2 separate regions of the Homo sapiens genome follow, and region 1 is linked to region 2. The links come from fine-mapping of genetic effects on gene expression. Tissue or cell type: whole blood. Region 2 holds a variant in brackets; the other region holds the start of a gene. All regions are shown on one strand. Distances are from middle to middle.

The links. PIP is the estimated chance that this variant, and not a neighbour inherited with it, causes the effect.
Region 1: VAV1 starts here. The variant in region 2 is fine-mapped to the expression of VAV1 in whole blood (TOPMed, PIP above 0.99).

What each region holds. Positions count from the first base shown.
Region 1 is chr19:6,769,142-6,777,141 of GRCh38, forward strand. VAV1 (vav guanine nucleotide exchange factor 1) reads left to right here and starts at 3,567. Exons shown (of 27, transcript NM_005428.4): 1 at 3,567-3,870. The coding sequence starts at 3,667. RefSeq lists a silencer at 3,386-3,635 and enhancers at 3,797-4,297, 4,406-4,455.
Region 2 is chr19:6,823,245-6,831,244 of GRCh38, forward strand. It overlaps VAV1 (vav guanine nucleotide exchange factor 1), which reads left to right. Exons shown (of 27, transcript NM_005428.4): 7 at 1,809-1,877; 8 at 2,059-2,162; 9 at 3,368-3,467; 10 at 4,832-4,927; 11 at 5,175-5,243; 12 at 5,378-5,464; 13 at 5,571-5,656; 14 at 6,542-6,674. Among named protein-coding and RNA genes, the nearest start is that of VAV1, 55 kb to the left of the region's middle. The variant G/A (reference allele first, on the strand shown) is at 4,233.

The DNA of each region.
Region 1 (8,000 bases), 54 kb before region 2:
GAGCTTTATCCTGTCTGCCTCCTTTTCAATCTTCGCATGCCCACTTTCTCCACGATGCTGCTTTGCGGTGAAAGTTACTCACCCACCATTTTACAGATGAGGAAATTGAGGCCTAGAGGGCCAACGATGCTTGGGGATGAAAAGTTTTGATGCCTGTAGGTTGCAAAGCAGGGAATTTCCAGACTGGGCTCCCCCGACTGGCCCTGGCAAATATGGAAGAGACTCCAGGCTCAAGAGGGGAAGAAAGTTTCTTCCTTATCCCTCACCGGTCTGGTATTGGTACAGTCAGAGGGTAGGGGCATGTTCAGGGAAGGGGTCTAGCGCCTCCTCGTGGTTATAATAATTTAAAAAGAGGGCCCAGCACTTTGGGAGGCCGAGGTGGGCAGATCACCTGAGGTCAGGAGTTCCAGACCAGCCTGACCAACATGGTGAAACCCTGTCTCCACTAAATACAAAATTAGCTGGGTGTGGTGGAATGCACCTGTAATCCCAGCTACTGGGGAGGCTGAGGAAGGAGAATCACTTGAACCTGGGAGGCGGAGGTTGCTGTGAGCAGATTAGCTGTGTGTGGTGGCATGCACCTGTAATCCCGGCTACTAGGGAGGCTGAGGAAGGAGAATCACTTGAACCTGGGAGGCAGAGGTTGCTGTGGGCAGAGATTGCACCATTGCACTCTAGCCTGGGCAACCAGAGTGAAACTTTCTCCTAAGAATAATAATAACGATAATTTAAAAAGAAACTCCATGATGAGGGCCACGTATTAGGTGGACGGGGGAGGGCCTGCTTACACTCTACTGGGGTGGAAGCTAGGGATGGGGGCAGAGAGACCTAATCTCATGAAGATGATTTCAGCTAATGATAAGGTAATGGCCGGGAAGCCAGTAAATGTTTGTTGAATGAGTTAATGAAAGACACTATTGGGCCTGGCACAGTGGCTCGTGCCTGTAATCCCAGCACTTTGGGAGGCTGAGGCAGGTGGATCACTTGAGGCCAGGAGTTTGAGACCAGCCTGGGCCACATGGCGAAACCCTGTCTCTACTGAAAATACAAAAATTTAGCCACGCATGGTGACACCTATAATCCCAGCTACTCGGGAGGCTGAGGCAGGAGAATCACTTGAATCTGGGAGGCAGAGGTTGCAATGAGCCGAGATTGCGCCACTACACTCCAGCCTGGTCCATAGAGCAAGACAAAAAAAAAAAAAAAAAAAGACACTATTGTAGTCTATAAGGAGAGGGATGATGGTGGCTTGGATTTGGGTGGTGACCATGGACATGGTGATAAAGGGATGGATTTGGGATAAATGTCAGGTGCAGTCAATAGAGCTTTCAATTATTTATTCATTCAACAGGTATTTAAGGGGCATGCCTATGTGTCAGGTGCTGCATAAGAGAGGGGTCAGTAGTGAACCAAAGAAACATAAATTCTTGAACAGACAATAAAGAAACAATGATGAGCGGGTGCCATGGCCCACGTCTGTAATCCCAGTACTTTGGGAAGCCGAGGTGGGAGGATTGCTTGAGGCCAGGAGTTCAAGACCAGCCTGGGCAACATAGTAAAAGCCCCTCTCTGCAAAAAAATTTAAAATTAGCCAGGCACAGTGGCACAAGCCTGTAGTTCCAGCTACTTGGGAGGCTGAGGCGGGAGGATCACTTGAGCCCAGGAGTTTGAGGCTGCAGTGAGCTATGATCATGCCACTGAACTCCAGCCTGGATGACAGAAGAAAGAGCCTGGGCACAGTGACTCAAGCCTGTAATCCCAGCACTTTGGAAGACCAAGGCGGGCAGATCACTTGAGGTCAGGAGTTTGAGACCAGCCTGGCCAACATGCTGAAACCCTGTCTCTGTGAAAATACAAAAATTACCTGGGCATGGTGGCAGGTGCCAGTAATCCCAGCTGCCTGGGAGGCTGAGGTCAGGGAAAACCTGGGAGGCAGAGCTTGCAGTGAGCTGAGATCATGCCACTGCACTCCAGCCTGGGTGACAGAATGAGACCCTGTCAAAAAAAAAAAAAAAAAAAAAAAAAAAAAGCCGGGCGCGGTGGCTCACGCCTGTAATCCCAGCACTTTGGGAGGCTGAGGCAGGTGGATCACCTGAGGTCAGGAGTTCGAGACCAGCCTGACCAACATGGAGAAACCCTGTCTCTACTAAAAATACAAAATTAGCTGGGCGTGGTGATGCATGCCCGTAATCTCAGCTACTTGGGAAGCTGAGACAGGAGAATCGCTTGAACCCAGGAGGCAGAGGTTGTGGTGAGCTGATCACACCACTGCACTCTAGCCTGGGCAACGAGAGTGAAACTCCGTCTCAAAAGAAAAAAAAAGAAGAAAGAAGCCTGGCGCGGTGGCTCACGCCTGTAATCCCAGCACTTTGGGAGGCTGAGGCGGGCGGATCATGAGATCGGGAGATCGAGACCACGATGAAACCCTGTCTCTACTAAAAATACAAAAAATTAGCCAGACGCGGTGGCGGACGCCTGTAGTCCCAGCTACTCAGGAGGCTGAGGCAGGAGAATGGCGTGAACCCGGGAAGCGGAGCTTGCAGTGAACTGAGATTGCGCCACCGCACTCCAGCCTGGGTGACAGAGTGAGACTCCGTCTCAAAAAAAAAAAAAGAAGAAAGAAACAAAGAGAGAAAGAAAGGAAAGAAAGAAAGGAAGGAAGGAAGGAAGGAAGGAAGGAAGGAAGAAAGGAAGGGAGGGAAAGAGGGAGAGAAAGGAAGGAAGGAAAAAAATAACTTAAAAAATCAGATTTGTTGGACAAAGATCAGGGCTTAACCTAGGGAGGTGGGTAGAGCTAATGGAATGCGGAAAAGGCTGTGATTTGAAATGAGGGGATTTAGGAAGACCTCATGAGAAGGTAGCATTTGAGCAAAGACATGTAGGGGTGAGGGAGCTAGCCATGAAGTTGCTTAAGGTGGAGGACACAGCCCGTGCAAAGGCCCTGGGGCAGGGCCGTATGTTCCTGGCATGTTGGAGGAAGAGCGAAGAGGCCCGTGTGGCTGGAGCACAGTGAAGAGGGGGAGAGAGGGAGTGGGGAGGGCAGGGAGGGAACTGGGCAATTCAAGCAGGGTTTTGTGGGCCTTGGGGAGGACTTGGGCTTGTCCCTGGAGGAAAGTGGGAGCCATAGAGAGTTGTGGGCAGAAGAAGGGTGTGCCCTGACTCAGATGCTCACAGGCAACCTCTGGTGGTGGCTGCAGGGAGGACAGACTGTGGGGTACGGGGGCTGGAGTCAGAAGACCAGCTGAGTGATGACGGGGCTGGACCAGACAGAGGAGGGGGTGAGAAGTGGGTGAATTCTGGGTATATTTCAGAGTGTCACTGCCGCCGTCTGCATATGGAGGAAGCTCACCCATCTCATAGTCTAGCTGGCCTGACTCCCCCAGCCCCCCAACTCCCCATGCCCAGGCCTGTGTCGAGTGGGCGGAAGAAAGAGATGTCAGATTCTGCATGGAAGGCGTGGGGTGGGGCTGGGCTGCAGGTGCTCCCCCAGCTCCCCCCCGCCCCATGGCTCCTCCTCCTCCACCCCCTCTCAGGGCGACAGTTACAGGCAAAGAAGAGGAAGTGGTAGCACTAGCTGTCGCTCCACAGGCGAGCAGGGCAGGCGTGCGGGCGGGTGGGTGGTGGAGGCTGCGAGGGTGCACGGCCGGCCCTGGGCAGGCGGTAGCCATGGAGCTGTGGCGCCAATGCACCCACTGGCTCATCCAGTGCCGGGTGCTGCCGCCCAGCCACCGCGTGACCTGGGATGGGGCTCAGGTGTGTGAACTGGCCCAGGCCCTCCGGGATGGTGTCCTTCTGTGTCAGCTGCTTAACAACCTGCTACCCCATGCCATCAACCTGCGTGAGGTCAACCTGCGCCCCCAGATGTCCCAGGTGAGCCCTCCGCGGGCAGGTGTGCTGAGGGTTGGAGACGGGGGTCCTCCCCGGGGCTGACAGTCGAGGGGCTGACGTGCTGCTCCACCTCTGGGCCTGCAAAGGAGAGGGAATATGCTTACAGGTCCAGGGCTGGCCCAGGGGGTGGTCACAATCTGAGATTCTGGGGTGGCCTCCCCAAGCTTAACAGGCTCCCTGTGTGGGTTCACGGGCCCTGAGTTGGCCCGCATCTGGGCTGAGAACTGGCAAACTAGGGGTTAACTCTCTCAAGCCCCAGGCGCCTCTACTGTGGTTCATGCCCCCAGATGGGACCAACCAGAGGTCTCGGGGGAGCTCCCCAGAACCCCCAGGGTGGCCATTGGGTTACCTGAGGCTTTGGACTCCTTTGACCCCCAGAGTCTGGATGTGGGGGAGGAGCCTCCGCCAACATCTTCCCCCACATGTGTCTCCTCCTCCCGGGCCCTGGGCCCCTTCCTTCCCCTTACATCTTCCTTCCCCTTGGCTTCCTGCCTGGGCCTGGGGCAGCATGGGGCAGGTGGGGGGCTGCAGCCCCAGGGATCTGAGCTTCCTCCCTGCATCCATCTCAGAGGAGATAGTAAGGCAGGGCCCAGTCCTGGGCTCAGAGAGTGGGTCCTGAGGTCTTGGTGCTTGGAAGAGCTGCATTTTCTCGGCAGGGATTTCTGCAGGGGCCCAGGCTGGAGGGGTGGTGGTGGATTTGACTGTGGCTGTATGAGACTGGCTCAGGAAATATATTCAAATCCCTATTTGAATGTGGTTGGGTGGGCGTGTGATGTGGCTGCATTATGTTGCTGTAGCATCATGTCTGGTTCCCCAGGGCTGCTGGGTGGGAACGGGGGACGGGGCGGGGCTGGTGGAGTCCCATCTCCTCTGGGATGAAAGGAGATACAGCCCTATCCTGGGGCCTGGGGGACACAGTCCTGCCCTGAGGTCTGAGGGGACAGCTCCCATCTGGTCCTCAGGCTGGCCCTGCAGATGAAGAGCTGGGAGGATAAGTTAATGGAGATGGGCCCATGGGGGTTCCTGGCGGGTGGTTTTCAGGGGCAGGGCCATTGGTGGAAGAGATCCATGCGCCTTTACTCCTTCTGTTTATTTTATTTATTTATTTATTTTTTTGAGACGGAGTCTCACTCTGTCACGCAGGCTGGAGTGCAATGGCACCATCTCGGCTCATTGCAAGCTCCGCCTCCCAGGTTCACGTCATTCTCCTGCCTCAGCCTCCCGAGTAGCTGGGACTACAGGCGCCCGCCACCACGCCTGGCTAATTTTTTGTATTTTTAGTAGAGACAGGGGTTTCACCGTGTTAGCCAGGATGGTCTCGATCTCCCGACCTCATGATCCGCCCACCTCGGCCTCCCAAAGTGCTGGGATTACAGGTGTGAGCCACCGCGCCCAGCCTTTTTTTTTTTTTTTTTTTTTTTTTAAAGACAGGGTCTCACTCTGTCGCCCAGGCTGGAGGCAGTGGTGCGATCTCAGCTCACTGCAACCTTAGCCTCTCAGGATCAAGCAATTCTCCTGCCTCAGCCTCCTGAGTAGCTGGGATTACAGGCGCCCACCACCACACCTGGCTAATTTTTGTATTTTTAGTAGAGACAGGGTTTCACTATGTTGGCCAGGCTAGTCTTGAACTCCTGACCTCAAATGATCCACCCACCTCGGCCTTCCAAAGTGCTGGAATTACAGGTGTGAGCCACTGTGCCCGGCTGCTCCTTCTGTTTTTTTTTATCTTATCTTTTATTTTTTGAGATGGAGTCTTGCTCTGTTGCCCAGGCTGGAATGCGGTGGTGCAATCTTGGCTCACTGCACCCTCCACTTCCTGGGTTCAAGTGGTTCTCCTGTCCCAGCCTCCCAAGTAGCTGCGACTACAGGCACACATCACCATGCCTGCCTAATTTTTTTTTTTTTTTTGTATTTTTAGTAGAGATGGGGTTTTCCCATGTTGACCAAGCTGGCCTTGAACTCCTGACCTCAGGTGATCTGACCACCTCGGCCTCTCGAAAGGCTGGGATTACAGGCATGAGCCACCATGCCCGGCCCTTCTGTTTCTTTAGTGCCAGGGGATTACACTGTCCTCAGCTGGGACAGGGCTTCCTGAAAGGAGAAGGCACTCCCCCCACCAACCTAAGCATCCATCCTCTGGCCACAGCCCATCCCAGCTTTGCCTACATTTGCTTAATCTTCTGGTTTCTAGGGCATGAGGAAGTAGTCATGGGATCTGTTAGGCCCCATCTGTTAGACCTGGCAGGGAGTCAAGCTCTCTGTGATGCTTCAATAGCAGCTAATGGGAAAGTGGATAGACTTAAGGATGAACTTCCATTCTTGTGTATGTCTTAGCTAAAGCTAGTTTTTGGATGAAGGACGAGGGTGCATGATGCTAATCCCTGGGAGAGCAGCTGCACTCCAAATACAGTCCTAATCCTCTGTAACAGGGAACAACGGGAACCCAGATGGGGTCAGGCTTTATGCAAGAGGGGACATTTGTGCTGGGGTTTTGAAGAGTAAATAGGAGTTTTTCTCATTGTTCTGGCTTCCTGTGCCCAGCTGTATCAGGCTCCAGGCTGGGCATCGGTGTACCCAGACCCTTTCCCTCTTCGAGGGGGCACATTCCTGCCCCTACCCATTTTGTTGCCCTTTGAAGCCCGGCCGTGTGTCTGGTATGTAGTGGGGACGTGTGAGGGAAGGTAAGAGGTCTTGACAAGAAGCCAGAGGAAGCTGCCACAGGAACAACCTCTCTGGGTTTCTGGGTGCCTAACTGTCCACAGATTGAAGCAGAGCTGTGAATGCCCCATGGGATGTGAAAGGGTAGAGGGAAAAAGGAAAGGTGCTCCTGTGGAGGAAATGGCATAAATAAAGGTGTGCAGGCTGGAATGAGAATTCTTCCCAGTTTCTGTCATTTCTCTTCGGAGTCCTTCTCTTTTTTCTCAGTTGTTTCTTGGGAAGAGGGTGGAAAGAACATATTCATCCATCCGTTCATCCACCCATCCACTCATTCATCCACTCATCTATCCCTCCAATTATCCATCCATCTACCCATCCATCCATCCATTTATCCATCCATCCATCCATCCATCCATCCATCCATCCATCCATCCATCTGCTCATCCATTCATCCATCTGCTCATCTATCCACCCATCCATCCATCCATCCATCCATCCATCCATCCACTCCTCCATCCATCTGCTCATCCATTTATCCATCCACTCATCTATCCATCCATCCATCCATCCATCTGCTCATCCATTCATCTATCCACTCATCCATCCATCCATCCATCCATCCATCCATCCATCCATCTGCTCATCCATTCATCCATCCACTCATCTATCCATCCATCCATCCATCCATCCATCCATCTACCCATCCACCCACCCATCTATCCATCCATCCATCCATCCATCCATCCATCCATCCATCCACCCACCCATCCACCCACCCATCCATCCATCCATTCATCCATTCATCCATCCACTCATCTATCCATCCATCCTCTCATCCATCCATCCATCCATCCATCCATCCATCCATTCAACCACCCACTCATTCACCCACTCATCCGTCCATCCACTCATCCATCCATCCATCCATCCATCCACTCATTTATCCATCTATCAGTCTATCCATCCATCTACTTTTCCATCCATGTATCCACCCATCCACCCACCCACCCATTCACCTATCCACCCACCCATCTATCCATGGATCCATCCATCCACTAATCTGTCTTTTTTATTTATTTGTTTATTTATTTACGGCGTCTCACTCTGTCACCCAGGCTGGAGTGCAGGGGCATGATCTCGGCTCACTGCAACGTCTGCTTCCTAGGTTCAAGCAATTCTCCTGCCTCAGCCTCCTGAGTAGCTGGGACTACAGGCACCCGCCACCACGCCCGGCTAATTTTATATTTTTAGTAGAGATGGGGTTTCACCATATTGGCCAGGCTGGTCTTGAACTCCTGACCTTGTGATCCACTCGCCTCAGCCTTCCAAAGTGCTGGGATTACAGGTGTGAGCCATACGCCCGGCCCATCCATTCATCTATCTATCATCCACCTGCCCACCCACCCATCCATCCATCTACTCATCCATCCATCCATCCATCCATCCACCCATCC
Region 2 (8,000 bases):
CCTCCCAAGTAGCTGGGATTACAGGCATGCACCACCATGCTCGACTAATTTTTGTATTTTTAGTAGAGACGAGGTTTTGCCATGTTGGCCAGGCTGGTCTCGAACTCTGACCTCAAGTGATCTGCCCACCTCGGCCTCCAAAAGTGCTGGGATTGCAGGCATGAGCCACTGTGCCTGGCTTATATATCTATCTTTTAAAGATATATATCATTATTTAAAGATATATATATAAAGTATGTATAAGATATGTAATAGATACAAATATATATTTTATATATATTTTTTGTTATGTTAACCAGGCTGGTCTTAAACTCCTGGGCTCAAGCAATCCTCCTGTAATCCAAGCCCTTTGTGAGGCTGCACTGGGCCTCTTCCTCTTGTCTCTCTGTCTCTCTCTTTATCTCTCACTCTGTCTCTTTTTCCCTCTGGGTCTCCTCTCGCTACTTTCTTCCTCAGTGTGTCATTCTCTCCTTTGTAGCTCTTTATCCCAGGCTCAGTCTTTTTCTGTATCCTCACCTCTCCATTTCTTTTAAAAATAGCTTTATTGAGATTTCATTAATATACATGTAATCCACCCATTTAGAATATACAGTTCAATGGTTTTTGGCACACACAAGATTATGCAGTCATCATCACTGTCTAATTTTGGAATATTTTCATTTGTTTTGTTTTGGTTTTTTTTGTTTCTTTTTTTTTGATTTGTTTTGTTTTGAAATGTGGTCTCACTCTCCCATCCAGGCTGGAGTGCAGTGGCACGATCATAGTTCACTGCAGCCTCGAACTCCTGGGCTCAAGTGATCCCCCTGCCTTAACCTCCTGAGGAGCTGGGGCCACGGGTGCATGCCACCACACCCTGCTTAATTCTTTAATTTTTTTTGTAGATATGGGGTCTTGCTATGTTGCCCAGGCTGGTCTCCTACTCCTGGCCTCAAGTGATCCTCCTGCCTTGGCCTCCCAAAGTGTTGGGATTTTGGGTGTGAGCCACCACCCCGGCCTTAATTTTAGAACGTTTTCATCATCTCCCAAAGAAACCCCAAACTCTTTAGCTGTTCCCCTTCAATCTCTTATCTTCCCCCGGTCCATGGCAACCACGAGCTTACTCGCTGTCTCTGTGGATTGGCCTCTTCTGGACATTTCATATAAAGGGCATCACATACTATGTGGTTTATATGTGTCTGGCTTCTTTTGCTGAGCGTAGTGTTTTCAAGGTTCATCCACATTGTAGCCTGTGTCAGAGCTTCATTCCTTTTCATGGCTGAATAATATTCCATTGTATGGATGGACCACATTTTTTTTTTCTTTTTTGAGATAGAGTCTCACTCTGTCACCCAGGCTGGAGTGCAGTGGCGTGATCTCAGCTCACTGCAACCTCTGCCATCCAGGTTCAAGTGATTCTCCTGCTTCAGCCTCCTGAGTAGCTGGGATCACACGCATCTGCCACCGTGCCCAGCTTATTTTTGTAGTTTTAGTAGAGACGGGGTTTCACCATCTTGGCCAGGCTGGTCTTGAACTCCTGACCTCGTGATCCACCCACCTCAGGCTCCCAAAGTGCTGGGATTGCAGGCGTGAGCCACCGCACCTGGCCGGACCACATTTGAAACACCCATTTACCCATTGATAAGCATTTTGGTTGTTTCCGCTTTTGGGTTATTATGAATAATTTCACTGTGAACATTCTTGTACAAGTTTTTGTGTGGACGCGCTGCCTCTCTTTATCTCCCTCTCTCTGTCTCCTTCCCCTGTCTCTCTGAGACTGGTCTGGAGGAGGGAATCTTATCTTCCGTCATCTTTCTCTCCCTTCCCCGCAGCATTTCTTGAAGCCCCTGCAACGGTTCCTGAAACCTCAAGACATTGAGATCATCTTTATCAACATTGAGGTGAGCCGGCCGATCCCCAGCCCTCTTGGGTCTGTCTAGTGCGGATAACCTGCTGCCCCTACCTCTCCCTGGAGTACGGGGGTTGGGAGTTGAGCGGCATGGGGCGGGTGGATGACCCTTTCCTTCCTGGCCCCCTGAGCCCTGGGCTCTGGTCCCAGCCCTCACCCTTCCCTCCGAGTAGGACCTGCTTCGTGTTCATACTCACTTCCTAAAGGAGATGAAGGAAGCCCTGGGCACCCCTGGCGCAGCCAATCTCTACCAGGTCTTCATCAAATACAAGGAGAGGTGAGACCCAGCTGGCCAGACTGAAGCTCTGGGGTCACTCTGTCTTGCCTAGGCTGGGCATCTGAGAGACCTTACCCTCAGACACCACTGGACGGGGAGGACTTTTTGCTGTGTGTTCATGGGCGAGGGGCTGCCCATCTCTGGTTCAATTCCCAGCTCTGCTGTGTGGCACTGGGTAGTCACTTAACCTCTCTGTGCTTCTGCTTCCTCATCTGTACATCAGTGGGCCACAGGAATGTGCCTCCTAGGCTGGTGGTGAGGGTTGACTATACGGATGCACACAGGGCCTGGCACATAGTAGATGCTCAATAAGTATTTGTTAAATGAAGGAACATTGGCCAGGTGTGGTGGCTAATGCCTGTAATCCCAGCACTTTGGGAGGCTGAGGCGGGTGGATCATTTAAGGTGAGGAGTTCAAGACCAGGCTGGCCAATATGGTGAAACCCCGTCTCCATCGCCTAAAAATACAACTAAAATACAACTAAAAATACAAAAAACAATTAGCTGGGCGTGGTGGCATGCACCTGTAATCCCAGTTACTCAGGAGAATTGCTTGAACCCGGGAGGCGGAGGTTGCAGTGAGTCAAGATCATGCCACTGGACTCCAGCCTAGGCAACAGAGCAAGACTCTGTCTCAGAAATAAAAACAGGCCAGGCGTGGTGGCTCACGCCTGTAATTCCAGCACTTTGGGAGGCCGAGGAGGGCAGATCACTTGAGGTCAGGAGTTCGAGACCAGCCTGGCCAACATGGCAAAACCCCGTCTCTACTAAAAATACAAAAATTAGCCAGGCATGGTGGCAGGTGTCTGTAATCCCAGCTACTCGGGGGGCTGAAGCAGGAGAATCGCTTGAACCCGGGAGATGGAGGTTGCACTGAGCCCAGATCACACCACTGTACTCCAGCCTGGGAGACAAGCGTGAAACCCCGTCTCAAAAATAAATAAATTAATTAAATTAAATAAAAATAAATAAACATTGGGCAGAGACAATACCAGGTACTGTGGTGAAATTACTGTAGCATTAAATGAGATAATGCTACAATAGCCTCACATGGGAGATGCTATTGTTATGCCCATTTCACAGATGGAGAAACTGGGACTCAGGTTTCTTCTCCAGCGGGGAAGAGCAAGGCCAGGGCTGACGCCAGCCTCTGCCCGACCTTGATGCCAGTCACCTTTACCTGGTGGCCTGTCTTCTCCCTGTAGGTTCCTCGTCTATGGCCGCTACTGCAGCCAGGTGGAGTCAGCCAGCAAACACCTGGACCGTGTGGCCGCAGCCCGGGAGGACGTGCAGATGAAGCTGGAGGTGGGCGCCGGGCCACTTCTCGGGGGCCTCTCCCGCTCCTCCCCAGGCCCTGGGGGCAGCAGGGAGGACACTGAGTTGCAGATGGTCCACTTTCTGCTGCAGCCCAGCCAGAGATCCACCAAAGGACTAGGGAGGGAGGTACTAGCCAGCCAAGCAGAGGAAATGGAGAAGAACAGAAATGGGCTGGCCCTGGGTCTGGGCTGACCCCTGATATCAGGGTGAAGTCCTGACCCTGAACTGAGCTCTGATCTCACACTCAACCCCAGCCCTGGGCTGAGCCCTAGCACTGATTGTACCCCAAGTCGGGCTGAGCTCCCACTTCTCACTGAACCCCAATTCCAACCAACCCCTGATCCCAGGCTGAACTTGATCTTGAACTGAACTTCAACCTGGATCTGTCTGGTGGAAACACAGACAGGGCAGGGGTGGTGAGGACGGGGGCTCTCCAGATCTGTCCCCCTCCCCATCTCCAGCCCCCCTCAGCAGGCAGAATACTGGACCTCTATCCCAGGCAGCATTTGCCACATTCCAGTGGGTTTGTTTGTTTGTTTGTTTTGTTTTGTTTTGTTTTTTTGAGACAGGGTCTCATTCTGTCCCCCAAGCTGGAGTGTAGTGGCATGATCATAGCTCACCACAGCCTCGACCTCCTGGACTCAAGCAATCCTCCCAACTCCTACCTTGGCCTCCTGAGTAGCTGGGACTACAGATGCATGCCACCATTCCTGGCTAATTTTTGTGTTTTTTGCAGAGATGGGGTTTCACCAT[G/A]TTATCCAGGGTGGTCTCAAACTCCTGGGCTCAAGCGACTCACCCACTCAGCCTCTCAAAGAGCTAGGATTACAGGCCTGAGCAATCGTGCCCAGCCTCTTCCCATTGCTTTTTTGTTTGTTTGTTTGTCTTTGTTTTTTGAGATGGAGTCTCCCTCTGTCACCCAGGTTGGAGTGAAGTGGTGTGATCTCAGCTCAATGCCATCTCTGCCTCCCGGGTTCAAGCAATTCTCCTGCCTCAGTCTCCTGAGTAGCTGGGATTGCAGGAGTCTGCCACCACGCCAGCTATTTTTTTTTTTTTCATAGCAGAGACGGGGTTTCCCCGTGTTGGCCAGGCTGGTCTTGAACTCCTGACCTCAAGTGATCCTCCCGCCTCGGCCTCCCAAAGTTCCTTCCAGTGGTTCTCAAGCTGCCCCCACCTCATGGAGTCCTTTTCCTGTTTCCTTGGGGGCAGATATGATGCTTTGGCCTCTAGAAAAATTCCCACAGCTCTGGGGTGGAGAGCTGCTCACGTATTTATTCAAATCTATCTGCACCCACCCTGCAACTGGCTGTTTCTGGGACCTGCCTCAGTTTCCCCATTGTTCTCTGATTCCCCAGGAATGTTCTCAGAGAGCCAACAACGGGAGGTTCACCCTGCGGGACCTGCTGATGGTGCCTATGCAGCGAGTTCTCAAATATCACCTCCTTCTCCAGGTGCCAGGCACATCTCTAGGCGTGGGCTCCACGTACCTACTCTCCTGTGTCTATAAAAGTGGGGACGGGGCTGGCTTCTGGGGGTTGGGTCTCTAGGACGCTCGGGGATGGGTCACTGGGGTCATGTCTCAGCCTCCAGGGTCAGCAGTACGATGGAGGAGCTGGTGAGCTAGCATTGTTTGGAAGGCCCTCCCCGCAGGGAGAAGGGGAGGGGCCCAGGTGACGTCTGACGTCTTGGTTCTCTCAGGAGCTGGTGAAACACACGCAGGAGGCGATGGAGAAGGAGAACCTGCGGCTGGCCCTGGATGCCATGAGGGTGAGTGGGTGTAGGGTGCTGGTGACTCACCTGCTGCAGACACCCTCCTGGTAGGGGCTGATCCTCTAGCCGGGATTAGGTAGGAGCCTGGGTCGGCTGTTGGGGGGCCAGGTTCACCCCTGCCCCCTCCCCAGGACCTGGCTCAGTGCGTGAACGAGGTCAAGCGAGACAACGAGACACTGCGACAGATCACCAATTTCCAGCTGTCCATTGAGAACCTGGTGAGGCGGTGGAGCCGGGTGGGCCAGGGGTGTGGCCACGTGGGGAGAGTGTGTGTCTGGCTCCTTTCTTGGGAGACCCTTGCTAGACCCCCTGCCTACTGCATAGGACCAGTCTCTGGCTCACTATGGCCGGCCCAAGATCGACGGGGAACTCAAGATCACCTCGGTGGAACGGCGCTCCAAGATGGACAGGTGGGTGGAGTCAACATGGATCTGGGATGGAGCCTGGGCAAAGGGGTGGGACCAGGCTCCTAGATGGGCAGGTGGGTGGAGTCAACACAGATCTGGGTGGAGCCTGGGCAGGGGCGGGGCCGGGCTTCTAGATGGACAGGTGGGTGGAGTCGACATAGATCTGGAGCAGAGCCTGGGCAGGGGCAGAGCCAGGCTTCTAGATAGGCAGATGGGTGGAGTCAACACAGATCTGGGAGGAGCCTGGGCAGGGATGGTGCCAGGCTCCTAGATGAGCAGGTGGGTGGAGTCAACACAGATCTGGGTGGAGCCTGGGCAAGGTGGGGGCCAGGCTCCTAGATGGGTAGGTGAGTGGAGCAAACCATATCTGTGGTGGAGCCTGGGTAGGGATGGGGCCAGGTTTCTAGATAGGCAGTTGGGTGGAGTCAACATAGGTCTGGGGAAGAGCCTGGATAGGGGCGTGGCCAGGCTCCTAGATGGACAGGTGGGTGGAGCCAACACAGATCTGGGGTGGAGCCTGGGTAGGGGTGGGGCCAGGTTCTTATGTAGACTTGTAGGTGGAATTAAGATGAATTTGGGGAGGGACCTGAGTGGGGGTGAGGCAAGATTTCTAGACAGACAGGTGGTAGACCCATCCAGAGAAGGCGGTGGAGCCTTGATGGACAGGCAGGACAGGGCCAGCGAGGGGTATGGGTGGAGCGAAGACTGACAGGCAGTAGGGCCAATGCGGATCACGTGGGTGAAGTCAGGATGGACAGGTGGGCATGGCCAAGTTGGCCAAGGAGGAGGAGAAGGGCAGGGTGGGACCAGGATGTGGAGGAACTGGTCAGAGGGCTGATGGGGACAGTTGGGAAGAGCCAGACAGGAATGCGTTATCCATCCTTCCAGGTATGCCTTCCTGCTCGACAAAGCTCTACTCATCTGTAAGCGCAGGGGAGACTCCTATGACCTCAAGGACTTTGTAAACCTGCACAGCTTCCAGGTTCGGGATGACTCTTCAGGAGACCGAGACAACAAGAAGGTGGGGCTTTGACGCCGGAACTATGGGGTCCTCCACGCAGTCGGCAGCTTAGCCCTCTCCACTTGGGCATGTGCCTGTTTGCCAGACTACATCTACATGGAAGTGTGTGTTAATCCACTCAACAGGTGTTTTTTGTTTGTTTGTTTTGTTCTGTTTTTTAAGATGGAGTCTCGCTCTGTCGCCAGGCCGGAGTGCAGTGGCACAATCTCGGCTCACCGCAACCTCCGCCTCCTGGGTTCAAGCGATTCTCCTGGCTCAGTCTCCCGAGTAGCTGGGACTACAGGCACACACCACCACGCCCAGCTAATCTTTGTAGTTTTGGTAGAGACAGGGTTTCACCATGTTGGCCAGGATGGTCTCGATCTCTTGACCCCGTGATCCACCTGCCTCGGCCTCCCAAAGTGCTGGGATTATAAGCGTGAGCCCACTCAACAGTTTTTAAATTGAGCACCTACTATATCCAGGGCACTCTTCTAGGCACTAGGACTAAAATGGAAAGCAAAACAGAATTTTCATTTTGTTTGTTTGTTGGTTTGTTTTTGAGACAGTCTCACTCTGTTGTTCAGGCTGGAATGCAGTGGCACGGTCTTGGCTCACTGCAACCTCTGGCTCCCAGGTTCAAGCAATTCTCCTGCCTCAGCCTCCCGAGTAGCTGGGATTACGGGCACCCACCACCATGCCCAGCTAAATTTTGTATTTTTAGTAGAGACGAGGTTTCACCATGTTGGCCAGGCTGGTCTCAAATTCCTGACCTCAAGTGACCTGCCCATCTTGGCCTCCCAAAGTGCTGAGATTACAAGCGTGAGCCACTGTGCCCAGCTTATTTTATTTCTTGTATGGTACTTGCGTTCTTATGGGATGCTTTCTACAAAGAAAATAAAGTAGGTGGCTGGGTGCAGTGGCTCATGCCTGTAATCCCAGTACTTTGGGAGGCCGAGGTGGGAGAATTGCTTGAGCCCAGGAGTTTGAGATCAGCCTGGGCAACATAGGGAGATCCCCGTCTCTACAAAACATAAAAAAAAATTTAGCTGGGCTTGGTGGCACATGCCTGTAGCCCTAGCTACATGGGAGGCTGAGGTGGGAGGATCGCCTGTGGCTAGGAGTTGGAGGCTGCAGAGAGCTATGATTGCACTACAGCTAGGACCACAGAGTGAGATCCTGTCTCTATTAAAAAATAAATGAATGAAACAGGAGATGTGGCTGTGGTAGGTGAGGGTGGGAGGGGGAGCTATCTTACCTCCATTGTTCAGGGACATTCTCTGTGGAAGTGACATTTAAGCTGAGACCCCTCTCCCTCTCGGCTCTTCCTTACTTCCTTCTGCTTTT